Homo sapiens: one gene and its partners. The protein of the gene in region 3 interacts with the protein of the main gene of each other region in a pairwise test. Each region holds a gene or a part of one and is shown on either strand. Other genes may lie near its edges.

Region 1 (7,000 bases), on a different chromosome or scaffold from region 3:
CAGGTATGTCTTTATCAGCAGCATGAAAACAGACTAATACACTACATAATAAAGACTAAAATTCAAAGTGTTCTGTTAAAGTCTACTTAGTGATTACAACTATTTTGTGCAACATTTTAACATTTAAGATGATAAAATCAAAACCAAGCACATATAATGAGTAGACAAGACTATTTCTATTACAACAAGTTAGGCTTAGCAAAAGTATATTCTTTAACACAAAAGGAGGAAACATGTCCCAGTTGGCTCAATAATGGTTTCTAAAGCAAGCTATCAAATTTCTCCACAGTAACTGTTACTACCATAAATTTTTTAGCTTCTCAAATTAGAATACAAGAACGCTTAAACCCCAGGATCAGCATAGTATAATTCTCTAAAGCAATAATTTTAACTTGCAGATTTAGAAGACAGAAAAATTTTGAATTAATTCTTATAATAAAAATCAGTTTGAAAGATAAGAGTTGACTATAGTAACTGTGAATTAATTTTTAAGTGAAAAACTAGAGCACTAAATGGTAAAGAACAAAAAGAAGACCATTAGTCATCTTTCCTTCATGAAAGTCTCTCGATCCGTATTTCTCTGAGACAGAAAAAGAAACGTAGCGATAGTTCAGAGACCATCTCTGACACAAGTAACTTGACCTCTTGGCAAGCTACTACTGATATTTCCAGTAACAGAAGCCTGACCATTTTGCACCCTACCACCTCCTACTGCTTTCCTTTATACCTACCCTCAATGCATCAGCCACAATTCTAAAGACTAGCTTACCCCTTGATAGAGAAAAATCAAGTTATACCACTGTTGAAAGTACCTTAGGCAAAACTTAAAAACCCAAGTGCCATGGCCAGGCGCAGTGGTTCACGCATATAATCCCAGCACTTTGGGAGGCCGAGGCGGGCGGATCACCTGAGGTTGGGAGTTTGAGACCAGCCTGACCAACATGGAGAAACTCCATCTCTACTAAAAATACAAAATTAGCCCAGTGTGGTGTCAAATGCGTGTAATCCCAGCTACTTGGGAGGCTGAGACAGGAGAATTGCTTGAACTCAGTAGGTGGCGGTTGCAGTGAGCCAAGATTACACCACCGCACTCATCTGGACAACAAGAGCGAAACTCCGTCTCAAAAAAAATAAACACCCAAGTGCCATTCACGTAAAATATAAAGGTTACCAAATCACATGCTATAAAACTAACTTTTAAGATTAAAAATCTGTGAAAACAGCAACTAAAAGTAACTAACTGCATTTTTAATAAAATGCAAACTTGGCTCCTTATCTTTACGATCTGTCAAACTCTTAACTCTTCCTTCAAGGCTCAACTTGAGCCTGCCTTTTCCCCAGATTAGGTCCCCTGTTATTCTCATTAAACACTGCATTTTTACTTCATAGCACTTTAACAAGATTTTATTTAAGAATTTTGTAACTTTTCTGTATACATTAGAATGTAGGCCTCCTATAAGGGCAGGAATTGTGTCTAAACAATGGTTATATTCCTGCAATTTAGGCACAAATTTTAACACTGCAGGCATTCACTTGTTACTGCTTCAATGAACAAATGCCTTTTCAGAGACCTGTGTTAATACAGATTTTTGTTTTGGGGTTTTTTGTTTTTTGTTTTTTTAATAGCAAAATCTCTGCTTAGGAAAAGGTGTAAAACGAAAATCTATCAGAAAATACTCCATTCAGGCCAGGTGCGGGGGCTCACGCCTGTAATCTCCGCACTTTGGGAGGCCGAGGTGGGTGAATCATGAGGTCAGGTGATTGAGACCATCCTGCCTAACAGGGTGAAACCCCGTCTCTACTAAAAATACAAAAAAATTAGCCAGGTGTGGTGGTGGGCGCCTGTAGTCCCAGCCACTTGGGAGGCTAAGGCAGGAGAATGGCGTCAACCCGGGAGGCAGAGCTTGCAGTGAGCCAAGTTCACACCACTGCACACCAGCCTGGGCAACAGAGTGAGACTCCATCTCAAAAAAAAAAAAAAAAAAAGAAAAAAGAAAAAAAGCACTCCATTCAAACTGACAATATTCAGATCCCGAATGAGCCAAAGTGTGTCACACAGAGACTAAGCTTGAACTGTAGAGCATTCCAGCAAATTAAAGTAATTGAGCAACAGTAAAGAAGATGACATTCACTGCAGATAAATTCAAGTGAGTGCATGCTGGCAAGACTTTACAACTTTACCCTACACCTACAGAAAGCTATGAAGTCATACAGAAACCACCCAAGAAAAACAAATGTGTTTTTCAGAGTATTTCAGTGATGTCAGAATTCACATTGAAGGAATAAACAGAATAACACTTTGTAGGAAATAAAATTTGAGCAGTCGACGTACATTTAATCTAGATTTAATATTACTGGAGCTATTCAATTGTTTAAGTAGCAAAACTAGTCCTAAAACAGAATCTAACTTTTCTATCCAAACCCCTATTCTATGCTTGCAGAAAACTAGGGAACAACTCTGAGAATGCACTTAGGGGCCCAAAAGCTCAACTTTCTTTAGAATGAGAATATTCATGACATTGTAAAGCATATCCTAAGCTTATATAAAATGGAAGCAGGCCAAAGCAGGTGGATCACTTGAGGCAAGGAGTTTGAGACCAGCCTGGCCAACATGGTGAAACCCTGTATCTACTAAAAATACAAAAATTAGCCAGGCATGGTGGCGCACACCTGTAATCCCTATAATCCCAGCTACTCGGGAAGCTGAGGCATGAAATGGCGCAACTGCACTCCAGCCAGGGCAACAGAGCAAGACTCTGTCTCAAAAAAAGGAAAAAAAAAAAATAGGAAGCAAAAATCGTGGTTGGTCTCAAAGTTACTGCTATCATATGTAAAATTTTTAATAATACTTTTTAGACAAAAATTTGTGGATAACTTGAAGTTCACAGAAGTCAAAATCTATTCTCAGACTACCCTTTTCTCACTGATTTATTGATTAAAAACTAATTTTAGGCAACAAATTCAAGAGAAACTAGAACTGAAAAATAACTTTGTAAGGTCAGGAACTTTCTGACTCTGGTTGCTGCCTGAGAAGTAAACTATATAGGTGGGCCAGGTGCAGTGGTTCACACCTGTAATTCCAGCACTTTGGGAGGCCAAGGTGGGAAGATCACTTGAAGCCAGGAGTTCAAGACCAACCTGGGCAACACCAAGAGACCCCCATTCTCTACAAAAAATTAAACATTAGTCAGGCACAGTGATACACGCCTATAATCCCAGCTACGCGGGGAGCTGAGGCAGGAGGATCACTTGAGCCCAAGAAGTTGAGGCTGCAGTGAGCCACGACTGTGCCACTGCACTCCAGCCTAGGCAACAGAGCAAGACCCTGCCTTTTTTAGAAAAAAAAAAGATACAGGTGGCTACCATGCTTACAGGCTAGTTCTTTCAGAAACCAATATGAAATTTTATGCAGCAGAAATTTTCCACAACCAGTCTAGGCTTCTGAAAGGAAGAAAAAGAACAAAAAATTAACCTATGTATATTTTCTAGGATGAACATCTTGGATTTAGCTATGCTGTATGTAGGTTTCCAAACAGTAAAAACATCAGTAACACTGGAAACAATAAGACAATGGAGTAATGCCTTTGATATTCTCAGGGGAAAAAAAATGGCTTCTGAAATGGAAATTAAAACTCTATACCTAGAAAAAAAATAATCCATTTTTATATAAAGACAGTTGGACAATATAAGATCTCAAAAATGAACAACCTTCTTCCAACTCTTTCTAAAGAAGCTACTGCAGGGAGAAAAGAAAAGCAAGAATGTTCGCCAGCATAATGGCGAAATGAAGTCCAGGACAACTGTGAAAGCCTAGGGAAGAGTCACTCTAGAAGAGGAAGAAAGATCCAAAAGACAGATCTTTTTTTTTTTGAAACAGAGTCTCGCTCTGTCGCCCAGGCTGGAGTGCAGTGGCCGCTATCTCCTCTCACTGCAAGCTCCGCCTCCTGGGTTCATGCCATTCTCCTGCCTCAGCTTCCCGAGCAGCTAGGACTACAGGCGCCCGCCACCACGCCCAGCTAATTTTTTTGTATTTTTAGTAGAGATGGGGTTTCACCATGATAGCCAGGTTGGTCTCAATCTCCTGACCTCATGATCCACCTGCCTCGACCTCCCAAAGTGCTGTGATTTCAGGCATGCAGAAGACAGATCTTTAAGTAAATAAATGGAACTGACAGAAATGCTTCATGTATATGAAACATATTGAGAGGTAACTAAATTTAGGGAAAAAACGTGATAGAATCATGAAAAGAGAGGAAATATTAATATTATAGTATATGGCTCAGCTGTCACTGTAACAGTCATAATATTGTAAATATCAAATACTGATTTTACCAAAGAGTAACAAAATTATATTGAGGGGGAAAATAAGGGAAGGAAACAGTTTAAGAACTAAATCTTAATTTTTCCTTATAAGAAAGTCAATACATACTTAAAAAATAACCCACAAAAAATAAATATCTAGAAATATAAAAGAAAATACCAAAAGAAATGTTAAAGCAGATAAAAGTGATGGCTTCTAGAGGGAAAGAATCTGTTTTTCATTATAAATCATGGTTTCGCTTTTAACTATTAAGCAATTAAAAATATAATACAATTTTAAAGAAATAAGAACAATTCTACAAGTATCCACACAGAAAAGAAGGATGAAAAAAGGAAAACTAAACCAAAGGTCTCAGAATCCTCCTCTGGGAGACTGGAATTTCCAAAATTGGAATGGCCACAATAATTATCTCCCACATGAGCTGTCCTATAATGTGACTTTGCTGCTACTCCCTGCACATGGAGATGAAATCTATTCTCCCCCATTAGAATATGTGTGGGCCATGTGACTGTTCTGACCAATAGGATACAGTATAAGTGATGTGGTGAGTTCTAGGTATAGCCCTTAACTAGTTTGGCAGGTTGCTGCCTCGGAGCCACAAACTGCTATGTAAGAAGTCCAGGCTACTTTGCTGAAGAGACAGGCCAAATAGAAGGGCAAGGAGTTTCCAGACACATGAGTGAAAAAGACATCTTGAATATCTGGCCAGCCAAGCTTTCAGATGTTTGTTACACAGCAGGAAATAACCAGAACATCACCAGCAACAAGGAATGCTAGAACAGAATGTAGCAATGTCCACAAAGACTAGAAGGAAAGGGATATGAGCTGAGAATTCTGTACACAGCCACGACATAATTTATTCATGTGAAACAACAGAAATACTCTTCAGTAAAATCTACAGAGCTAAAAAAAAATTACATGGGCAGAGCTGACACCATACACTTTACTTACCAAACCAAAAGGAATATAAAATAATTCAACTAAAAAAAAAAAAGAGGAAAAGTGGAAAAAAAAGAATAAAAATTGGCCTGGTGTAATGGCTCATACCTGTAATCCCAGCACTGTGGAAGGCCAAGGTGGGAGGATCACTTGAGCCCAGCAATTCGAGACCAGCCCTGGCAACACAGTGAAACCCCATCTCTACAAAAAATAAAAAACTTAGCTAAGTATGGTGGCGCACGCCTGTTAGTCCCAGCTACTCAGGAGGCTGAGGAGGGAGGATTGCTTGAGCCTGGGAGGTCCAGGCTGCAATGAGCCATGAGCCACGGTCGTTCCACTGCATTCCAGCCTAGACTACAGAGCCACACTTTGTCTCAAAAAATAAAAAAAGAATAAAGATAAATGGAAGATGATAATGAACTAGAAAACTTAAATTGCTAGAACTGGCTGGGCACTGTGGCTCACACCTGCAATCCCAGCACCTTGGGAGGCCGAGACAGGCGGACCACCTGAAGTCAGGAGTTCAAGACCAGCCTAGCCAACATGACAAAACCCCATCTCTACTAAAAATACAAAAATTAGCTGGGCAGGGTGACAGACGCCTATAATCCCAGCTACTCGGGAGGCTGAGGCAGGAGAATCGCTTAAACCTGGGAGGCGGAGATTGCAGTGAGCTGAGATCATGCCACTGCACTCCAGTCTGGGTGACAGAGCAAGACTCTGTCTCAAAAAAAAAAAAAAAAAAAAATTGCTAGAACTGATAAACCCAAGAGATGGCTCTTTTTGAGACTGAGTCTTGCTCTGTCACCAGGGCTGGAATGCAGTGGTGTGACCATGGCTCACTGCAGCCTCAACTTCCCAGGCTCAAACAATCCTCCCAGCTCAGCCTCCCAAGTAGCTGATAGGTGCATGTTAACACACATGCCTAATGTTTTTATGCTTTGTAGAGATAGGGTCTCACTACGTTGCCCAGGCTGGTCTCAAACCCCTAGCCTCAAGACATCCTTCCCCCCTCAGCCTCCCAAAGTGCTGAGATTACAGCTGTGAGCCACCATGACCAGTCTAAGAATTGGTTCTTTAAGTAAATAAACAAGCCATTAGCTATCTGTGATAGGTAGCCTCTAAAATGGCCCCCAATGACCTACACTTTCTGGATACTCTTGAAATCTCCTCTCCCTTGAGTGTGGACTAGGCCCTACTCAACTGTTCCAGAATACAAATATGAAAAGTTTGCTAAATATTTTGAAGACAGTATAACATGATTCCAAAACCTGAGACAATACAAACTAAAAATGGACTAATTTCAAAAATGGACACTGATGTAAAATTCTAAATACAATGTTAGCAAAAACAAACACAGGAGTACATTAAAAAAAACACTGTACCATGACTAAATAAGGTTCTTTCCAGAAATACAAAGTTAATTCAATAACGAAAAATCTATTAATATAATTCAGTCAATTAGTTCAATGGAAAAAAAATTTACATTCACATTATATGTGAAAAAAGCATATAATATATATAATATCAAAACCAATAAGCAGTCCTCAAAGACAGAAAGTAGAATGGTAGTTGCCAGGGCTTGAGAGCAGGGAAGATGTAGAGTTATCATTTAATGCAGGGGTCCTCAACCCTTCCTACCCACCCTGCGCCCCCACCATGGTGGCGGGCAAGCCCACCTGAGCTCCGCCTCGAGCCCACCTGAGCTCCGCCTCCTGCCAGTGTCAGCATTAGATTCTC
Region 2 (7,034 bases), on a different chromosome or scaffold from region 3:
TGTGGCGATGTATTATGGCAGCAATTGAAATAGATACAGATCTTTCACAGAGCTTAAAGTCTAGCAGAGATGGATAACACCGATGAAAATTTCTGGCAATGCAAATTTCTCCCACCCTTTGCTTCTCTGAGAATTCATTTCTCCTTGTGGCCTGCTGATGAAATAATATCATCTCCCCTGTGAGGTTTCCTTGATTTCTCTACTACAAATAATCGCTCGTTCCCTGAAATCCTGCAGCTGTTGTTCGTTTTCAGCAAATAACCCTAACAAACAATATTCTGCGGTTTTAAACGATTTCACACACATTTTGTTCATTGAATTGGGGCCTGCAGTCACCCAACTAGTTCTAATCCGGGTTGGAACCACGATTGGAACCTGGTAGGAGAGTCGGACTCCAGACTCGTGCTTCTATTTTAGCATATGGTTCCCAATCCAAGGAGCAAAACGTGTGAAATCACTTAAAACAGGTTATAATCGTGGCTCCTAAGTTAAACTTCTCTGAGCCTCACTTTTTACCCCATCTGAAACACAGGTGTAGCAACAGTTTCTATGGCCTGAAGTTGGGGTCATGCATGCCCAGCACAGACTAGGTGAGCTCTCGTTCCACCTTTCCAACAACCCTGGCGCCCCATTTTTTTTCCAGAGAAAGAAACAGGTGGCCGGGCGCGGTGGCTCACACCTGTAATCTCAGCACTTCGGGAGGCCAAGGCGAGTGGATCACGAGGTCGGCTTTGAGACCAGCCTGGCCAACATGGTGAAACCCCGTCTCTACTAAAAATACAAAAATTAGCCCGGTGTGGTGGCGTGCGCCTGTAATCCCAGCTACACAGGAGGCTGCAGCAGGAGAATCGTTTAAACCTGGGAGGCAGAGGTTGCAGTGAGCTGAGATAGCGCCACTGCACTCCAGCGTGGGTGACAGAGCGAGACTCCGTCTCAATAAATAATAAATAAATAAAACAATATAAATAAGAAACGGGGACTCAAAGAGACCAAGTCACTTTTTCAAGGTTACATTGCTCCTGAAGCTAAGAATGCATGCCTGCCTCGTCTCCCACTCCACCCCGCATACGCCTCCAAGTCTTCCTATTGATAAGGTGGCACACATGGCTGTCTTTTCATTTCACCGGCGCAGTTTGTGATTCTGCATTTATTTCTGCTCATTGGCTGCCTCCCTACCCTACGGGAGGGGTCCCGAGGCCGGACCCGCTGTCTCCGCAGCCGCTGTGCCCGGCACGTGCCCGCCTCCACCACGAGGGGGCGCTATGGGCTAGGGAGGCGCTGCAACCCTGGCAGTCCTTGAACGAGGAGCATCACCTCTCGGAGCTCCCGCTTCCGGCTCTGGAAACGGAATGATAGCTCTAACTCACAGCTGGAGCCCACCCACCCCCAAGTCACGGCGCCTCTAGGGCCTGCTTCCTCCCTCCCTTTCCCCACCTCAAGGCCCGCTTCTTGGGGCCTGGTTGCCCTTCGCCCAGCTATTATTACTGCGGGCGATGCGCCGGCTGGCCAATCAGGAGGCGCAGCGCGCCTGTGACGTCACGAGGTGCGAGGCAGATGAACGCCTGCCCCATCCCGTCCCTCCATTCCCGGGCCCACCGCGCCTGCGCATGCGTGCTGAGCGCCAGAAAAAAAAAAGGCGGGAAAGGACGCTTGCGGCGAGACTCTCCTGCGGGAGCGGGAGGCTTGGGCCTCTCAGGAGGGCACAGGTACGGGGCGCGGGGCGACAGAGGCAGAAACCCAGGCAGCCCCAGACGGCGAGCAGGGCGGGAGAGTGGAAGGGAGGGAGAAGACGGAGAAACAGCGACTGCGACGGGCACAGAGGGAGGACAGAAACGCTGCCCCTTAGGTGGGGAGTGAAACCTCCCGTGAGGGAGCGGCGAGGGCGGCGGGGACGGTGAGAAACGGACAGAGGAGCCCGCGGGAGACAGAAACGGAGGGAAGGGGGCTGACCATGAGAGAAACGAGGGGGAGAGAGAAGAGAGCACGCGGGAGACTGCAGGGAAGGCGCGGGAGATGGAGACTCAGAAAACAACCGTAAGAGACAAAGGAAAAGATACCACAGCGCTGGGCCTGGGGAGAGAACGCAGTGAGAAATGGAGACGATGAGAGTATGAGGTGATATAGCAAAACCGACCGTGAAAAATCGAGTGAGAAGCAGGTGGCGAAGCTGAGAACTGAAAGTGAAAGACAAGAGGACGGAAGATACAGAAACAGTTTGGGCCCAGTGGCTCCCGCCTGCAATTCCAGCACTTTGGGAGGCCGCAGCAAGCCGATGACTTGAGCCCAAGAGTTTGAGACCAGCCTGGGCAACATAGTGAGAACCCATCTCGACAAAAAATCAGGCCGGGAGCAGTGGCTCACCCCTGTAATCCCAGCACTTTGGGAGGCCGAGGCAGGCGGATCACGAGGTCAGGAATTTGAGACCAGCCTGGCCAACATGGTGAAACCCGTCTCTACTAAAAATACAAAAATTAGCCGGGAGTGGTGGCACACGCCTGTAATCCCAGCTATTCAGGAGGCTGAGGCAGGAGAATCACTTGAACCCGGGAGGTGGAGGTTGCAGTGAGCCGAGACCACGCCACTGCACTCCAGCCTGGGCAACACAGCAAGACTCTGTCTCAAAAAAAAAAATTAGCCAGGCATGGTGGTGTGCATCTGTAATCCCAGCTATTCAGGAGGCTGAGGTCGGAGGATCACCTGAGCCTGGGAGTTCAAGGCTGCAGTGAACTGAGATCGCACCACTGCACTTCAGCCTGGGCAACAGAGCAAGATCCTGTCTCAAAAAAGAGAGAGAGAAATTTACCATGAAAAATGGAGTGAGAAACAGAGGTGGTGAAGGTGAGATCTGAAAGAAAAGTGAAAGACTGAGGGGGAAAGACAGATAAATTGACCAGGAAAAACTAGGTGAGAAACAGAGATGAGAGTGTGAGACTGATAATGAAACAAAAAGACAGAAGGACAAGGGAGAAAAAAATAAAGAGAAACTGACCACGAAAACTGGAGTGAGAAATAGATGTAATGAGGGTGAGAAATTGAAAAAGAAAGACAGGGAAAAAGAAATGATGGGAATATGAAACTGACAACGAAAGAAAAAAAATGAGAAAGATGGTGAGAGAGAGCAAAAGAAATTACCATGAAAAAAATACGGCATAAAGACGAGTGTGAGAAATTGAAAATGAAAGGCAAAAAGAGATTGGCACAGAGAAGAAAAGATAGAGAATTTGATCATGGAAAATGAAGTGAGGCCAGGCATGGTGGCTCACACTTATAAACCCAGACATAAGCCCAGCACTTTGAGAGAGTGAGACAGGAGGATCGCCTGAGCTCAGGAGTTTGAGACCAGCCTGGGCAACATAGTGAGCCCGTCTCTACAAAAATTAAAAATGAGCCGGGTGTGGTGGCGCACATCTGTAGTCCCACCTTTTCAGGAAGCTGAGGCAGGAGGATCGCTTGGGCCCGGGCAGTCAAGGCTGCAGTGAGCTGAGATCACACCACTGCACTCCATCCTGGGCAATACAGAGATAGAGATGATGAGGGTGAGAAATGGATAATGAAAAAAAGAGACCAACAGCAAGTGAGAAACAGGAGCAGAGATGGATTCGCAGGGATCCTGAGAGATGGGGATACAAGGAAGACAGGCAAAGAAAAAGGCAGAAGAATGTGGTGACAGTGATGTGGGGGCCAAAGCGGGGCGTGGTCCCAGGTGTGGAAGGAGCTGCAGCAGCAAGACAGAGGCCATAGAGCAGAGGGGGATGGAGCTGTGGCCCTGGAGGCTGATTCTGCTGGCCAGAGGGAGGGGATGGCCAGGGTAAGGAGAGAAGCTGCACTCCAGGAGTCCCCACCTCTGAGCCATACCAGGCCCGGACCAGAGCGTGAGCTTCAAGAATGGGTGAGGTTTCGCTTGCTCTGGGGGAGCTGGGGTGGGGACGATGATGTGATGACAGAATGGCCCTTGGTTGTGGGTTTGACTGAGGGCCCCAGGCTTGCATATTGTGTGGCTTACAGGAGGGCCATGGGCTCAGGATTGCTGAGCTTAGCCTGATCTCTTAGATGGTGTCCTTGGCTCTGAAGAAGTGTCACCATTGAGCCCAAGGAGGTAATGCGTTTAGGGTCTCAGGAGCCAAGGAAAACCTTTCCAGGGTGCCCCGAGGCCTCAGCCAGCTCATTGAGAAGGGTCTTTCTGGAAACCCTGCAGGGAAGCGAATGGAGGTTTATGGAGGCCCTCCATGGCCACCCCAATCAGGCCTCTCACCTGTGTCCGGCAGGCGCCTTATTGCTGGGGAGGAGCTACCCGGGCGCCGGGTGGTCCTCCAGGGGAGAGTGTGTCCAGGTACCCCCGCTGTGGTAGTCCCCTTGGCCAGGTCCTCTCTTGAGGTGGGGTCCCAGGTCCAGGGGGGATAATCGTCATAGTCTGTGTAGCCTTTGGAGAAATTGGGGTAATGGTTGACCCCATCCTCTTTCTCAGAGGTCCTTGCTGCTGCTCTTCCCTCCCCTTTTGGAATCTTCTGGAGCAACTCTGGGATCTCCCCACCCCGACCCCTCATACCCAGTTCTTTAGAGTCGACCATGGTGCCGTCACCTGGCCCCACCCTGACTCCATTCTCCTGGCCACCCCCGACAACCCCACCACCGCCGCCATGCCCTGGTACCAGTGCAGGTGAGCCCCACGTCTTCCTCGTGGTCACAGTTGTGCTTCCCCCAAGCCCCCGAGGGGCAGTCGCTCAGTGAGGCCTCGCTTCCCTTACAGCCCATGTCATCCAGCCAGATGGGCCCAGTCCCAGGGCCGTAATGGGTTTTGCCTACTCGAGGCCGGACCTTTCCACAGCCCAGTTCCCAGCAGGCCACAGTGGCGTCCCGCAGGTCCCAGTTGTCATCACACACTGTTCCCCAGCGTCCGGCATGCCACACTTCCAGCCGGCCAGCACAGCGGTTGGGCCCATCGGCCAGACGAACCCGGAACAGGCCTGCGTGGAAGGCCCTTAGGTCAGGAGGGAGGGTCAGCCTCTCCCATTCTCTCCCCACACCCCTCACGGCCACTCACCTGATTCCCCAGTGGTGCTAACACTGGGAGAGGGGGCCGGGTCTTTGGGTGACTCTGGAGACCCTTCTGGGATCTCAGCAGATGGCTCCAGGGAGGCCTGAGGGATACTCTTGATAGTGGACTCAGAGGTCATTTCTTGGGGGCCTTGAGTGGTCAGCATTGCCATGGTCTTAGTGGTCCGTTCTCGGGGGGCCTGAGGGGTCAGCGTGGCAGTGGTGTGAGAGGTCCATCTCTGGGGGGCCTCCGTGGTCGGCCTTCTGGTAAACTCAGAGGTAGGTCTTCGGGAGGCCTCAGTGGTCAGTGCTGCAGTGGTCTGTGAGGTTAGGTCTGGGGGGCTTTGGGCCCTGGAGTGTTTCGTGGTTGGCATCACTGGGGGTTGAGTGGTTGGTCTCTTTGCATTTTTTGTCACCCACTTCTTAGTACTCTTAGGCATTTTCCCTGGGGCCTTCGTGGTTGTTTTCTCCAGAACACTGGCAGTCACACTTGCAGAGGGCTTGGTGGCCAGCTCTCCCGGGAGCCAGGCATCCCGATCTCTCCCCAGTCCAGGAATCCAGCTCCAGCTGAAGGGGTCTGAGATGGAGTCCAGGCCTGGGGGCCCTGGAAGGTGAGTGGGGCAGGAAGAGAAGACAGAGACACCATGATGACAAGATCATCTACCCAGGCCCCTCCTTCTCTCCAGTCACTCACCCAGTTCCCATTCATTCATCATTCATTCATTTATTGTCACAAATATTTATTGAGCACCTCCTATGAGCCACACACCATATTAGACCCTCGGGTAGCCTATGGCAAGCCAAACCCGACACTGCCCCCGCCTTCTTGGCATTTACAATCTGGACATAACTGACCCCCTCACCCTTTCACACCTGACCTCTCCTCTCCATCTCCTCAGCTTCTGCTCTGAGTCAGGGCCTCATTTCCTATACCTTCTGACAGGTCTCCCTACCTCCCTGTCAATTCTTACTGACCACCAGTGGGGTACCCAGGTCCGACAGGCCACTCCCGAACTCAGAATCCTTCTGTGGTGCCCCCGTGGCCCTCAGGAAGACGGGGACAGAGGGAAGAGCCGTAGCTTCCAGCAGAGGTGATGCCTCCATCCTTTGAGACACCACTCTCCATCTTCCATCTTTCTGATTAGCACACGTGTGCAGTAAAGGATTAACCCTGCCCAAAGAAAGGTTTCGCCTTTTCCCCGGCTCCTGGGAGATGACTTCGAAGCCTTTGGAACACCTTGCCTGATAAGAGATTTTTTTCCCTGGGGCACTTGGGCCATGCCAGATCGCCTATGCTAACAGTGTGATTTATGGTCAGCCACATGTACGTGGCCAAGTCCCCACGAACACTCTGGATGCCAAGGCTTGGGGGAACTTCCCTAGTTGGCAGTTCCTCATGTGTGTTGTCCCACTTCGTTGCTGGGATAATGAAGTGCTGTCTGCATAACTCCACTGGGACAGGACAGTTGGAAGCTCACACCTACTGTCTCCTGAGCCCTGCCTCAGGCGCCTCTTCCCTTGGCTGATTTTAATCTGTATCCTTTCACTGTGATAAACGATAACGCTGAGTGTAACAGATTCTTTGATTCTAAGAGTTCTTCTAGCAAATTATTGAGTCTGACAGTGGTCTTGGTAACCTCAAACTATAACGAGTCACACAGGTTTGCAATGATTTGTTAGAGTATTTCTCTACATGAGCTGTGAGCTATTCAAAGACCAAGACCATGTTCATTCCATTCATGAGCCCAGCATGAGGACCCTGCACCTGGCTCAGCCTCTGCAATTTAATAACAGGCATTGCCTGAGTTTATGTTAACTGGCTCTCACTTTGGCTTCTTTCCATCTCCCAGTGCCCTGCCTGCTTCCTTTCATCGTAGGAAAGCTAAAGCTCCTTTCTTAGTGGGAAATTTCCTTGATTCCTGGAAGGAAGAGGAAGCAGAAGCTTCTCTGAGTGGGAATCCCAGATCTGCCAGTTAGTTGTTGCTGTGTGATCTTGAGCA
Region 3 (7,034 bases):
GCAATGGCGCAGTCTCTACTCACTGCAACCTCCACCTCCCGGGTTCAAGTGATTCTCCTGCCTCAGCCTCCCAAGTAGCTGGGATTACAGGCGCCTGCCACCACGCTCGGCTAATTTTTGTATTTTTAGTACAGACAGGGTTTCACCATGTTGGCCACGCTGGTCTCAAACTCCTGACCTCAGGTGATCTGCCCGCCCCGGCCTCCCAAAGTACTGGGATAACAGGCGTGAGCCACTGCACCCAGCCCCCATCAAAAGTAAATTTTAAAAATGTCAACATTATCAAAAAAACCATTCCATTTCACATATGAAAAAGAACAGCAAAAACAACAAACCTAAAGTTATAAGAGGGAGGAAATAATAATGATAGGAGCTATAAATAAATAAGAAAACATGTCATGAAATTTAAATAAATGTGCCAGGAGCTTGTTATTTGAAACAGCTAATTAAAACAGGCAAAACTGTCAAATACAAGGTTTTAAAATGTAGAAAAATGGGAGAAACTTAAGATGTGAGCTACAGCAGCACATTTTATTTTTTTATTTTTGAGAGACAGGGTTTCTCTTGTCACCCAGGTTGGGTTGCAGCGGCATGCTGTGCCTCACTGCAGCCTCGACTTCCCAGGCTCCAGAGATCCTCTCACCTCAGCCTCCCAAGAAGGTGGGAACTACAGACACATCCCACCATGCTCGGCTAATTTTGTTTTGTTTTGTTTTTGGTAGAAACGGGGTCCCACTATGTTGCCCAGGGTGGTCTTGAACTTCTGGGCTCAAGCGATCCTCCCGCCTCGGCCTCCCAAAGTGCTGGAATTACAGGCGTGAGCCACCGTGAGCGGCAGCAGATCTTTTATTGAACTTAATGTGCATTAAGTGCCTGCGTGTGTCAAACAATGTTTTAGATTTTTAAAAATAATCATAAAACATTCCATGCATGACTGATTGTAAAAACGACTATGCCCAGGGCAGTTTTGTTTAAAAATATTCCGCCGGGCGCGGTGGCTCACGCCTGTAATCCCAGCACTTTGGGAGGCCGAGGAGGACAGATCACGAGGTCAGGAGATGGAGACCATCCTGGCTAACACGATGAAACCCCGTCTCTACTAAAAATACAAAAAATTAGCCAGGCGTAGTAGCGGGCGCCTGTAGTCCCAGCTACTCGGGAGGCTGAAGCAGGAGAATGGCGTGAACCCGGGAGGCGGAGCTGGCAGTGAGCTGGGACTGTGCCACTGCACTCCAGCCTGGATGACAGAGCGAGACTCCGTCAAAAAAAAAAAAAAAAAAACCACCATATATATATATGTATTTTACAATGGACAAGTGAAAAAGTTGACTAAAAGTAGAGATGACCTTAAAATAACTATGAAAATCATCCCCTCCCCTGTTTAACACTGAGACCCAAGCGTTATGGATAAATTCTATTTTTACGTAGAAAAATGATGCTATGTTAGAGAAGCTGATTCATACACAGAACACATTCAAAACCACTTCACAAAATCATTCCCAAGCTATCATCCGATCTCCACTCCCAATGGAGACAGAGATAAAATTCTTGGCTCATGACAAGGACTCAGTAATGTGATAAAAGAATAATATACCAATTAGGGTTTATCACAGGGAGCGAAGGATTGTTCAATTTGAGACAATCTAAAAATAGCATCCACCCCATCAATAGCTTAGGGGAAAAAAATCATATGATCATTTAAAAATACCAAAAGGCATTTGAAAAAATTCACCACCACCCTCCTAAGACAAAATGGAAAAAAGGGAATGCAAAAATATTTCTCCAACATGCTGACAAGGATTCTAAAATAAGAGCTGGTATTAATATGATAATCAGCAGAGAAGTACTAGAGATGCACTCGAAAATCAGGAGCCAAACAAGCATGCCTGGCCGTGCCCCACCACGACGTTTTAGAACATGAGAGAAATGCCACAGGATAGACAGGGAAGCAAGAGGGGCACGTGTTAGAATGCAGAGACAACGGCACTCTTAATAACTGATGCTGCGGCTTGACGAAAGCAAACAGCACATACAAGAAAAGCATTCAAAACAACAACCGACAAGCTGCATTTCTACAAACAAAAACCACTTAGGAAATACGCAAGCAAAAGAAATGCCAATCACATCACACCTGTAATCCCAGCACTTTGGGAGGCCGAGGTGGGCGGATCACCTCAAGTCAGGACTTTGAGACCAGCCTGGCCAACATGGTGAAACCCCGTCTCTACTAAAACTACAAAAATTACCCAGGAGTGGTGGTGGGCGCCTGTAGTCCCAGCTACTCGGGAGGCTGAGGCAGGAGAATCACTCAAACCCAGGAGGCAGAGGTTGCAGTGAGGCGACATTGTATCACTGCACTCCAGCCTGGACAAGAGTGAGACTCTGTCTCAAAAAAAAAGAAAAAGAAAAAGAAAAAGAAAACAAAAAAAAAGGAAATGCCAATCACGGATGCAACAACCTATCATCACCACGACTGCCACAAAAAAACCACCAAAGACCACCCCTGACATCATACGCACATGACTTCCAAGAGCAAGATCTCTAAAACCGGTCTAACTTGTATCAGTAGACACTGATGGAGAACTCTCTTATGTTCCTGAAAAGTCTGACTGAAGACCAAGACGCAACCATGGATGTTACGAATGCCTCACAGCATGGCTAGGACGTGGGCCCCTTCTAAGGTGAGAAAACCGAGGCTCAAGGAGGTGGTTTCCATTTCCCAGGGTCATCTGTGAGCACATGGTGACCTCACACAGCCTGTTTGGAGCAGAGCTGGCATTGCCACCCTTGTCTGGGTGACTCGGAAGCCTGGGATCTTCCCATGCTACCTTCTAATCCACCGCCTATACCTTGATACTTGGGGATATCAAACGATATTCTACAAAGATTAATACTTGAAGGGAGCAGGTCTTACATGGTATTAAAATATACTCTAAAACAGCAAGACTCAAAACAGCATGATACTGGGACAGAAATGGAAATGTGGAATCGTGGAGGCCCAGAATGAGGCCCAACTATTGTTAGATATATGGCAAAACAGAGACTGTCTAATACATGGCGGTCACTAACTGAGAAGCATGGGAAAATTGCACAGAATGGGTTTTAATATCTGGCTGAGCGTACAGTAGGAGCGTATTGATACAAACCAGCAGGTGCCTTTGCTCCGAGCTTGGTCCTGCATGCTCAATAGCTCAGAGGCCTTACTTGGCTCAATCTCTGAAGGACTTCGTAATTCATAAGGTGGATGTCTCCATTTCACAGATGGAAAAACTGAGGCTCAGAAAGGGAAATAACCAGCTCAGATCCCTCAGCCAGGTCTGGCTGGCTTTATCAGCTAAGTTCCCCGGCCTCAACCGGCAGACAAGGCTGGGCTTTTCTGGACTCCCAAAGCTCAGGGTGCTGGTGGCTGCTGCCTCGAGCACCTGTGGGTCCCTCACCCTTGCATGCTCCCAGTTCCCTCACCGTGGGCCTGGACCAGTGTGCCCTATGGCTGCTCTCTGCTCCTGGATGACTGACTCTCCAGTTGCCTCCTGGGTGTGCCTGGAGTCTCATGCTACACTCCCATGCCTATTGCCAGGTCCCTGACTCAGTTTCCCCACTCATCCCAGCCAGCAGCTATGGCTGTCTGGCTGTGACTCTGTTGAGTTCACCTTTGTGAGCCTCTGTTTCCATAGCTGTGAGATAGTGGAGGTGACAGCAACCACCCATAGGGTTGCTGTGAGGATTAAACCAGGTGCTGAGCATCGAGAACCTGATATGGGACAGGGTTCAGATGCATGAACCACCACCCCCCACCACGCCCCACCCCGCCCCCTCTTCCAGTCTTGTAAGCCCACCCTGAAGGGTACGACACCTGTCTGGGGACCCCTTAAGGGCACAGGGTGATTGCGGCCACCCTTTCTAAGGCCCCAGCCCAGGATCAGGCCTGATTCCGGGAAAATGCCTCCTGCTCCCAACCAGAGCCATTCACCAAACCATTCTATTCCCTTCCCAGTTCATCTCAGCTGCTTCAAAGAGGCCCAGGCAAAGCCCACCCCTGAGATAGGCCTCCCTGGCGGCCTGTCTTCAAAAATCCAGGCATCCTTAGGCAAGGGTGGAACTGAAGCAGCACTGGAGCCCTGGACCCCGGGGGCCACCTACACCCACTGACCTTCTTGGTATAACCCATGGCCTTCAGGACAGAGTGATTCAAGGTCTCCAGGGAGGCCAGGACATCCTCATAGTCACCCATGTGGTCCACAAAGTAATCTGGGGAAGGAAAGGCAAAGGTCAGGGGTCACAGGTCCTGCCCCTCCCACTCAGCACTCCTGCACCTCCCACCTGCGCTACCTCCAGCCTCCCCTGCCTCAGGCCCTTCTCATCCAGCCCCATCCCAGCATCCCCATCTTGGTCCCAGCATAGCCAGGCACCTACCACACAGCTCCTTGGTGTCCACATGGCTGCAGAGACAGACAGAGGCAGAGACAGACAGAGACAGAGAGGGGGTTAGCAGGCCTGACCCTGCACAGCCTGCGAAACACACATCCTGCCTGCTCTTTGCAGCCTGTGTGCTGGCCCCACAAGCTCCGCCTTACAGAAGAGGGTGCAGCAGGTAGGTGACACCCCCGCCCCTGAAGGCCCACGTCTGTCTGATCCCCCACACCACCCACCCTTGTTCTGTTTTCTCGGAGTCTGCTGACCCCATCATGAATAAATGACACCAAGGGGAGGGCCAAGCTGGGGGCCAGGAAAGGGGTAAAGGGACAGAGAGTGGGGACCCATTACTGTGACGGGCTGTCAGCAAAGCTCTCATCTGACCCACTGACCCACCCCCAGTCGACCCTGCCTGCTGGGTCCTGGAGTTCCTGGGGTTGTGGCAGAGCCCTTCCTGTTCTGGTCGCAGCCCCTGGGTCCCATATCCCCATTCCTACAGCCTGGAGAAGGGTCCTGTCCTTTCTTGGGGGAGCAGGCTGAGCATGAGCCTATCCCCCATGGCAGTGAAGGAGCACAGACCGGCCCCAAGATAAGGGGTGCAGTGCTGGGAACTATGGTGGTTCTGCAGCTTAGGAGCAGATTTGATAAGCTGAGGCCCTCTGGGACTGGCTAGAGATGGTCTGGATAAGGAGCTACTGCCAAGTCAATGTGCAAGGGACCCAATACGGTGGTGGCCCTTTCTGGGCCTAGGTCCCTCATCGTGCTCAGTGGAGCCCAGGCTCAGCAAAGCACATCTGGACAGAAGGCTTCTGTGGCCCAGTGAATCTGCACTCGGGGGCTCTGCATGCTCTGTCAGGAGGTGCCTCCAACCTCCATCTCATATTCAGAGTTCTGGCAAGTCCTGCAGAAAGCGACCCTGTCATTCTGCTTTAATTCATGTTTCACAAAACTTTTTGATGGTTTGTACACTGTTTTGGGCACAAAGTCTATTTAGCATCCCAAGGGGCTAATGTTCGTGGCTCACACCTTAGGTAATGTTGGGGAGATTAATCCTAAAAGTCTTTATAGAGCTTTGACCTTCCATAACCGCGAGTCCTCCCTGCACCCCCACCCACCCACACGTACTCTCACAGTTCGACTCTCAAACCAGTGCCTCCTCCTCCCTCCGCCTCCACCCCCTCCTCTACCCCGCTGGTCCTAACACAAAAGGCCCTGAAAGAGAAGGTCTAAATCAATGGGCACCTGCCTGGCCCCTTCAAAGCACCCCAGGAAGCTGCAGTAACAGCTCAGAAATCTCCATCTGGCCCCAGACAGTTCTCCATTCTGCAGTCTGGAGCCTGAAGCCATTTCTTTAAAGTGGCCTTTCCCAGAGGATGGTATCTGCTCCACTTACCATATCCCGGTCCCCAGCCAGTGCCCCCCAGGACTCTCTCAGCCGCAGCCTCTGGTCCAAACCACCACTGTACTCTACCCCTTGCACACTGGTTTGGTGGTAGCTCCTTGTCCAGACCATCTCTAGTCAGTCTCAGAGAACCTCCGCTTACCAAATGTGCCCTAAGCAGCCCTCCAGAAGCTTGGGTCCTCATCACGCGAGTAGGCCTGAGAAAGGAGACCAGGTGGGGCTCTGATCCCTCCTGAAGGTGGGGTTGAGGAGAGGGCTCAGACCTCATCCTGTCTGGGGAATCCCAAGAAAAGGGCAAGATTGGAGGTGAGGCTGGGAAGGGTCAAGGGTAAGTCTGAGTAGAATCTGCATTTTCCACTTGATTTAGAGATGGGTGGAGACAGAGTTTTTGGCTGATTCTGAGATGCAGGTCAGGGTTATGACTGGGTTGGAGAAAAGGTTTAATAAGCTATAATGATAGACGTAGTGTTGAGTTAGGATTCGTGTTTGGTTTAACACAGGAGTCAGTGTTAGGATGACGTTCAACCTCACAGTTAATGTTGGGACTGGGAGGACACACAGGCATTGGGGTTGGGGTGAGAACTGGCTGCTGGCTGAAGATGGCAGAAGGATGAAGTCATTGCCACCTTCCCATTTTCATAATCCCATGTCCACTGTGCAAAACCAGGAGTCTCTCCTTAGTTGGCCATGTGCACTCAGAAGACACACTTGCGATAGTAGCCAATGCAATATGAATCTGCACACGCCCCATTCACCCCAGGCAGTGAAGAGCTGACTTCTGGATTAGCAAATTTGGGGATTTTCAGTTCTCCTGCCCCTTACAGGGGACTAGGAACGGACACTAGATGAAAAGATGCCTCCACCACAGCCCACACACACCCCCACTCTGCCAGCCAGGACTGAAGCTCACTTGGTGTTGTCAGAGTCAATCGTGTGAAAGAGATCCTCCAGTTCTTTCTCATTAAGGACGCCATCTGCAAAGAAGAGCTGGAATTCCTCCAAGGACAGCTTCCCATCATCTGCAAGGAAGGAAGCAGAGAAAGGAGCTGGTGTCTGCAGAGATAAGGCTGGTGGGGCTAGTGCATGCACGGCCCCCAAATCCAGTCAATGGCCTGACTGACAGAACAACTGCAGCTCAGATAATCCCTACCCTCCCAGCTAATCCCCAAACTAAAAGACAAATTCCATTTTAGATAATCCCTACCCACCCAGCTAATTC
Region 4 (7,034 bases), on a different chromosome or scaffold from region 3:
AAAACCAAAAAAAAAAAAACCCTGCTTTTCTGCCTGCTACCCCAGGAACAGACATAATTAGGCAAGGCCATGATATTCTTCTGCTGAAGCAGGATTCCTCTCAAGAGACAGTTGATTCTTTGCCCCCTGTTATGTATGTTTAAGCCAATACAGATGTGTGTGCACGCAGCCCTTACTCACATTAATATGCACCTAAAACATTTCATGTTTTTTCTGTGGCTGTTTGTTCAGAAGGTTCCCTATTTTTTCATTAACTTGAAATCAATTAAAATTAAGGTATATAGATTAACTAATAAGAAATAAATAATTACGTTACTGATATCAATTTTCTTTTTATCCTTCCAAGTATACTTTACATATACTGCGTAGTCACATACGCAACTTGAGTATGTTATTTAGGGGGAAAAAACATAAACATAAGTGATAGTTTATTATATTTGATTACTAATCTGACAACTTACTTTATTCTTGGAGAACATTCCTTATTCATATACACAGAGCCATGACATCATCTTAACATGCTGAAGAGTATTCTTCCATGTATGTATGGAGCACATTTTGTGAGTCTTCTATTGACAAATACAGGGTGTTTCTAACCTCTTGCTATGAATGTTATAATTGTAACATCTGCTACTCATCAACTGCTTAACATGAACAAGACACGATTTAATAAGCTTTAGCAGATTATCTCACTCAAATCTCACAATAATTTTATAAATTAGGGGTCACTGTTATATCCAGTTTACAGCTAAAGGAACCAAGTCAAAGGTTAAGCAGCAGGTCGTAGGCCACCCAGGAGCCAGTAAACAGCTGGCTCAGATAGGAACTCCATTCATCCGGCTTCAAAGGTGAATTCTAGGCCGGGCGCGGTGGCTCACGCCTGTAATCCCAGCACTTTGGGAGGCTGAGGCGGGTGGATCATGAGGTCAGGAGATCGAGACCATCCTGGCTAACACGGTGAAACCCCGTCTCTACTAAATATACAAAAAATTAGCCGGGCGTAGTGGCGGGCACCTGTAATCCCAGCTACTTGGGAGGCTGAGGCAGGAGAATGGCGTGAACCCGGGAGGCGAAGCTTGCAGTGAGCTGAGATTGCGCCACTGCACTCCAGCCTGGAGACAGAGCCAGACTCTGTCTCAAAAAAAAGAAAGGTGAATTCTAAACCATGGCTCTAAACTGAAACTCAGTTTCAGTGTTGCCTTACCCAGGTGTCTTTTTCTATGTGTGTAAGTATGTTTGAAGCATAATACAGTAATATGTGTACAAATATATTTATAGGTATATTGTGCTTTATTTATGTCTTTTTATATGCATGTCAAGATAAATTCATAGAAATGGAGTTGCCAGGTAGGTATATAATTCATTTAATACATGTGTGGTTGTCACTGGCTATGTTATTTTGGAATTGACATAATGTTTAGCTCTTCTTTTTCTCATTTCTCAAATATGAGGATGTTGTTTTCAATATCTCACCTGTAGCATTTCCTGGAACATCTCCTCTAGCTCGGTGGCAAGCTTGATCGCTTGATTCAGAAGGGTTTCTCTCAGGTTCAAGTCAGATATGCATTCCTGCTGTCTCTGGAGATTCTGCTCACACTCTTCATTCAACAACCGGAGTCTCATACTATACTCAGACTCAATCATCTTTTTAAAATTTTGTTCCTCTTCCTTCCTCATATAGACATGATAGACTTCAGGTTAAACATGATAGATTAACAACACACACACACGTCATAATAGATAGATATCTATATCTATATATAGATATATATATCTTACACTGACCACAATGTATTCTTTCCATCTCTAACCCCAATATAAAGACAAGGAAGGCTGGGCGCAGTGGCTCACGCCTGCAATCCCAGCACTTTGGGAGGCCAAAGTGGGTGGATCACGAGGTCAGGAGATCGAGACCATACTGGCCAGCATGGTGAAACCCCATCTCTACTAAAAATACAAAAATTAGCTGGGCGTGGTGGGGAGCACCCATAATCCCAGCTACTCGGAAGGCTAAGGCAGGAGAATCGCTTGAACCTGGGAGGTGGAGGTTGCAGTGAGCAGAGATTACGCCACTGCACTCCAGCCTGGCAACAGAGCTAGACTCTGTCTCAAAAAAACAAACAAACAAAAAAAGACGAGGAAATGTAAAGTACAGAAGAAAAGGAATAAACCCAAAGGAGAAATAGAATTTGAGTCAACATCAGCCAAGACATCAACACAATTTTAGAACATAAAATGCAGACGAAGAAATGTTCATCAATGAATTGGCTGGGCGCGGTGGTTCACGCCTGTAATCCCAGCACTTTGGGAGGCCGAGGCAGGCGGATCACGAGGTCAGGAGATCGAGACCATCCTGGCTAACACGGTGAAACCCCGTCTCTACTAAAAATACAAAAAATTAGCCGGGCTTGGTGGCGGGCGCCTGTAGTCCCAGCTACTCGGGAGGCTGAGGCAGGAGAATGGCGTGAACCCGGGAGGTGGAGCTTGCAGTGAGCCGAGATGGCGCCACCGCACTCCAGCCTGGGCGACAGAGGGAGACTCCATCTTAAAAAAAAAAAAAAAAAAAAGAAATGTTCATCAATAAGGAAAAACTAAGGAAGCTATAGCCTCTGTCAAACAGAGGAGGAGACCAGGACATTGGAAAAGGGCCAATGGGATTTGCTGATGCTTGGGTAAGAGTTGTGGGGAAAAAAGGAGTCATGGACGAAAGACACCAAAAATTTTAGACTAAGCAACTGGAAGAATGGAATTACCAAAATATATAGAGAGAATCTATGGAAAGGCTGGATTCCAGAAGTGAGGAGTGTGCGTTAGCTCGGGATGTGATGAATTTGATTAGTCAATTAGACATCCAAGTAAAGATAGTAAGTAGGAAATTGGACATGAAGCCTACTACCATTTGGAAATCTGAGCTAGGGATATATATTTGAAAGTAGTCATCTTAGAGATGCTTAAATAGCATCTCTATTAAGCTATTTAAGATTCAGTGAAATTGTCCGGGCTCACGTCTGTAATCCCAGCACTTTGGGAGGCCAAGGCAGGTGGATCATGGGGTCAGCAGTTCGAGACCAGCCTGACCAACATGGTGAAACCCCGTCTCTACTAAAAATAAAAAAATTAGCCAGGCATGATGACGGGCCCCTGTAATGTCAGCTACCTGGGAGACTAAGGCAGGAGAATTGCTTGAACCCGGGAGGCGGAGGTTGCAGTGAGCCGAGATCGCGTCACTGAACTCTAGCCTGGGTAACAAGAACGAAACTTCATCTCAAAAAAAAAAAAAAAAAGATTCAATGAAATCAAGATTTATCAAGAACCTGACTACTTCTCACCACTGCTCTACCTGTCCCCCAGCTCACCATCATCTCTCCCTAATTATTGCAAGTCCCTTTGCACGTCTCTCCACCTCTGCTTTTACTCTCTTGGTTTTTTTTTTTTTTTTTTTTTTTTTGAGACGGAGTCTCGCTCTGTCGCCCAGGCTGGAGTGCAGTGGCGCCATCTCGGCTCACTGCAAGCTCCGCCTCCAAAGTTCATGCCATTCTCCTGCCTCAGTCACCTGAGTAGCTGGGACTACAGGCACCTGCCACCACACCCGATTTTTTAGTAGAGACGGGGTTTCACCGTGTTAGCCAGGATGGTCTCGATCTCCTGACCTCGTGATCCGCCCGCCTCGGCCTCCCAAAGTGCTGGGATTACAGGCATGAGCCACCACGACCAGCCTGCTTTTACTATCTTAATGTCTATTTTCATTTGGCAGCTAGCGTGTTTCTATGAAAATGGAAGTTAAATCATGTCAGCCTTCTGTTCGAAACCTTCCAGTGGTTTTGAAGCTTGTATTTCATTGAAGGCTGCCACCCTAAATGACTGACCGCCTTCTTCTGATCTCATCACCTACAGCCCCCGTTTCCTTACACAGCTCCAGCCACATACACGGCAGCCTCCAGGCCTTTCCTCTGCCTAGAATATTCCTCCCCAAGAAAACTGCATGGCCCAATCCCCCACCTCCTTCAGTGCCACCTTCTGAATAACAAGGTTCTGATCACTTTATTTACAAGCTCACTCCATTGCTTCCTTTCTCACTTAAAAAAAATTTTTTTAAACACTTCCCAGGTAACATACTATATATTAAACTTATTTTGTTTATATCCACTAGAATGCAAGTTCCACGAAAGCAGAGCTGGTTTTTTTTGTTTTCCATTGGTGAGCCCCTAGCACCTTGCATAGTCCCTGGCAAACAGTGGGATCTCAGTATTTGCTGAACACATGGTACTTGGAACTGAAAAAGAAGGGGGATCGGTTGAAAAATCCTTACCTAGCCAGGCAATTCTCCTCCACTATCTTCCCTAAGTAGGCATTTATTTCCTTTAAAAATTGAGGGAGAGAAAAGACCCAGAATCGGGGATACCTTGCACAGAATAGGATTAAGTATGAAGATACAGGCTGAAATTAGAAGTGAAATATGCCTAACAGGTGGTGAACCCTCAAATCTGAATAGCTATTCTCAAATTGCTCTTTAAAGGGTTTTAGAATTTATGTGGCAACCAGAAGTACAAGAGATGCTCATTCTCCTATGTCATTGTTATAAACGGTGTCGTTAATCTTTTTGATCATTGCAAATAGCATTGCAAATGCCATTTTACTCACCATATAATTTGTATTTCTCTTACCACGAACAAAGTTCAAATTCTTTCAATGTATTTAAAATATATTTACTTTCTTTTCTGCAAACTCTTATTTGATCGTTTTTTAAAATTAAATTTCTAGTCTTTTCCTTACTGACTTTTTTTATTTTTATTTTTTTTGAGATGGAGTCTTGCTCTGTGGCCTAGGCTGGAGTCCAGTAGTGTGATCTCGGCTCACTGCAACCTCTGCCTCCCAGTTCAAGCGATTCTCCTGCCTCAGCCTCCCGAGTAGCTGGGATTACAGGCTCGTGCAACCACACCCAGCTAATTTTTGTATTTTTAGTAGAGATGGGGTTTCACCATGTTGGCCAGGCTGGTCTCAAACTCCTGACCTCAAGTGATCCGCCCTCCTCAGCTTCCCAAAGTGCTGGGATTACAGGCGTGAGCCACCACACCCAGCTTCTTACTGACTTTAAAGAGCTTTTTATACATTAAGATATTAGCACTTTTCCTTCCTATAGATTTCACATTTTTCCTGCTTTGTGATTTGTCTTTTGACTTTGTTTATGATACACTATTTTCTAACAACATTACTGGTAATTTCCCCCCAAGAATCAAGATAAGCACTCACTGACCTGAATCATCGCCATTCTTTCTTGCTCATCAGTCAATATGCTTTTAGCTGCTTCAAGTTTCTCCCTCGATGTGTTCAATATTTCCTGGAATAACTTCTATAGAGAAAGCACAGAATTCCAGGTGAGATCATTGATTTAGAACAGTTGGATTCCTGACCTTAAACAGCCAACAACTCTGAGTATATATTTTCTTAGCCTTTAGGTTGAAGGTTCAACGAACTTATCTAATATTCTGTAATAAACATCAACTAAGGTAATGGTTTTGGAGGACCAGAATGTCTGTCCATTTCATCCATATAGGAGTTGGCCAGAGTGTTTTGGGATTTGCGTGAGTGACTCTTACCCTGTAATTCTCAGCAGCCTCTTGTATCCCACACACCATGTGATGTTTGTGCTCCTGGGACTGGAAGCATTTGCTGCAGAGTGTGATTTGGTCAACATCACAGAACAGCCGTGTTGGTTCCAGGTGTGTTTCACAATAGGCATCTTCTGTGATGTTGTGCTGTAACTGAGGGCTGAGCCTTTTGGACATCCTGGTAGGGGTCCCTAGTTGAAGACTGGACTGTATGCTTCTACTGAGGTATCTCCCTGCACTGTGAATGAGAAAAAATGGTGGCTTCCTTTGTTTTCTGGAGCAGGCACACACACTTGGCAACTTCAGAGTCCACGAAGATCCAAGGAAATAAGTCCACGCAGACAGAGCGGGTCGGCGCTCTGGACTCCTCAAATCCAACAAATTTCTGGCAGCTGCCTGCTTGGGGAAAAGACAGAGTTAGGCCAGTGTTCTAAGACCAGCGGGTTTCCCTCAGGTCTTCTGACAATCTTGAGCAATAGGCTGAAAATTAATTACAAGGAACAGCACTCACTTACGAGTCATTCAGGGGAAAACAGTGCTCTAAAGGCATCGCGCTAATTACTGAAGGAACTTCAGGACTAGAGTGAGGTAACAGAGTGCGAAAGAGGTTCGTTGATAGAATTACAGAAAAAAACCACAAGTATCTGAAAAAGTTATTAAAATACTTTCCCTTTGAGAGACAGGGTCTTGCTCTGTTGCCCAGTCTAGAGTACAGTGGCGTGACCACGGCTCACTGCAGCCTCTGGAACTCCCAGGCTCCAGCGATCCTCCCACCTCAGCTTCCGGAGTAGCTGGGACTACAGCTGGGACAAAACACATGCAACAGAAGGAATGGGGAAGCAAATAAGGGAAAACAGCTCCTCTTTTTTTTTTTTTGAGACGGAGTCTCGCTCTGTCACCCAGGCTGGAGTGCGGTGGCGCGATCTCGGCTCCCTGCAAGCTCCGCCTCCCGGGTTCCCGCCATTCTCCTGCCTCAGCCTCCCGAGTAGCTGGGACTTCAGGCGCCCGCCACCTCGCCCGGCTAATTTTTTGTATTTTTGTAGTAGAGACGGGGTTTCACCGTGTTAGCCAGGATGGTCTCGATCTCCTGACCTCGTGATCCACCCGCCTCGGCCTCCCAAAGTGCTGGGATTCCAGGCGTGAGCCACCGCGCCCGGCCGAAAACGGCTCTTCTAAGAAGCCATCAATTAAAGAGATTTGCAAAACAGTGAAGCCAAAGCCACTCTTCTCAATAATTGTTTCCGAAATAAAATTTCAGGAGTGACGTGACGCGCTGCCCGCGGTCTGGCCGTGAGCGCCCTCGCTCCTTCCTCTTTGACTCCATCTTCGCGGGGGCGGCAGCCGGAACCGCGGTTCAGTCACCAACATGCAGTTCTTGGTCCGCGCCCCGGAGCTACACGCCCTCCAGGTGACCGGCCAGGAGAC

Evidence for each region.
Region 1: the proteins of NECAB2 (region 3) and TRIM59 interact in binary tests that used the Homo sapiens proteins (3 or more experiments, as listed by UniProt).
Region 2: the proteins of NECAB2 (region 3) and SSC5D interact in binary tests that used the Homo sapiens proteins (3 or more experiments, as listed by UniProt).
Region 4: the proteins of NECAB2 (region 3) and TRIML2 interact in binary tests that used the Homo sapiens proteins (3 or more experiments, as listed by UniProt).

Annotation. Positions count from the first base shown.
Region 1 is NC_000003.12:160,439,787-160,446,786, forward strand, and holds part of TRIM59 (tripartite motif-containing protein 59), read right to left. Parts: intron 1-7,000. UniProt on the Homo sapiens protein: E3 ubiquitin ligase involved in different processes such as development and immune response. Serves as a negative regulator for innate immune signaling pathways by suppressing RLR-induced activation of IRF3/7 and NF-kappa-B via interaction with adapter ECSIT.
Region 2 is NC_000019.10:55,498,420-55,505,453, reverse strand, and holds part of SSC5D (soluble scavenger receptor cysteine-rich domain-containing protein SSC5D isoform 1 precursor), read right to left. Parts: intron 5,639-7,034; coding exon 5,042-5,638; intron 4,965-5,041; coding exon 4,650-4,964; intron 4,421-4,649; coding exon 4,253-4,420; intron 1,339-4,252; coding exon of another isoform or gene 1,268-1,338; exon of another isoform or gene 1,113-1,267; intron 1-1,112.
Region 3 is NC_000016.10:83,978,244-83,985,277, reverse strand, and holds part of NECAB2 (N-terminal EF-hand calcium-binding protein 2), read right to left. Parts: intron 6,835-7,034; coding exon 6,726-6,834; intron 4,440-6,725; coding exon 4,414-4,439; intron 4,249-4,413; coding exon 4,151-4,248; intron 1-4,150. UniProt on the Homo sapiens protein: May act as a signaling scaffold protein that senses intracellular calcium.
Region 4 is NC_000004.12:188,099,583-188,106,616, forward strand, and holds part of TRIML2 (probable E3 ubiquitin-protein ligase TRIML2), read right to left. Parts: intron 6,429-7,034; exon of another isoform or gene 6,009-6,428; 5' UTR 5,787-6,008; coding exon 5,598-5,786; intron 5,351-5,597; coding exon 5,255-5,350; intron 1,692-5,254; exon of another isoform or gene 1,678-1,691; coding exon of another isoform or gene 1,669-1,677; coding exon 1,474-1,668; intron 1-1,473.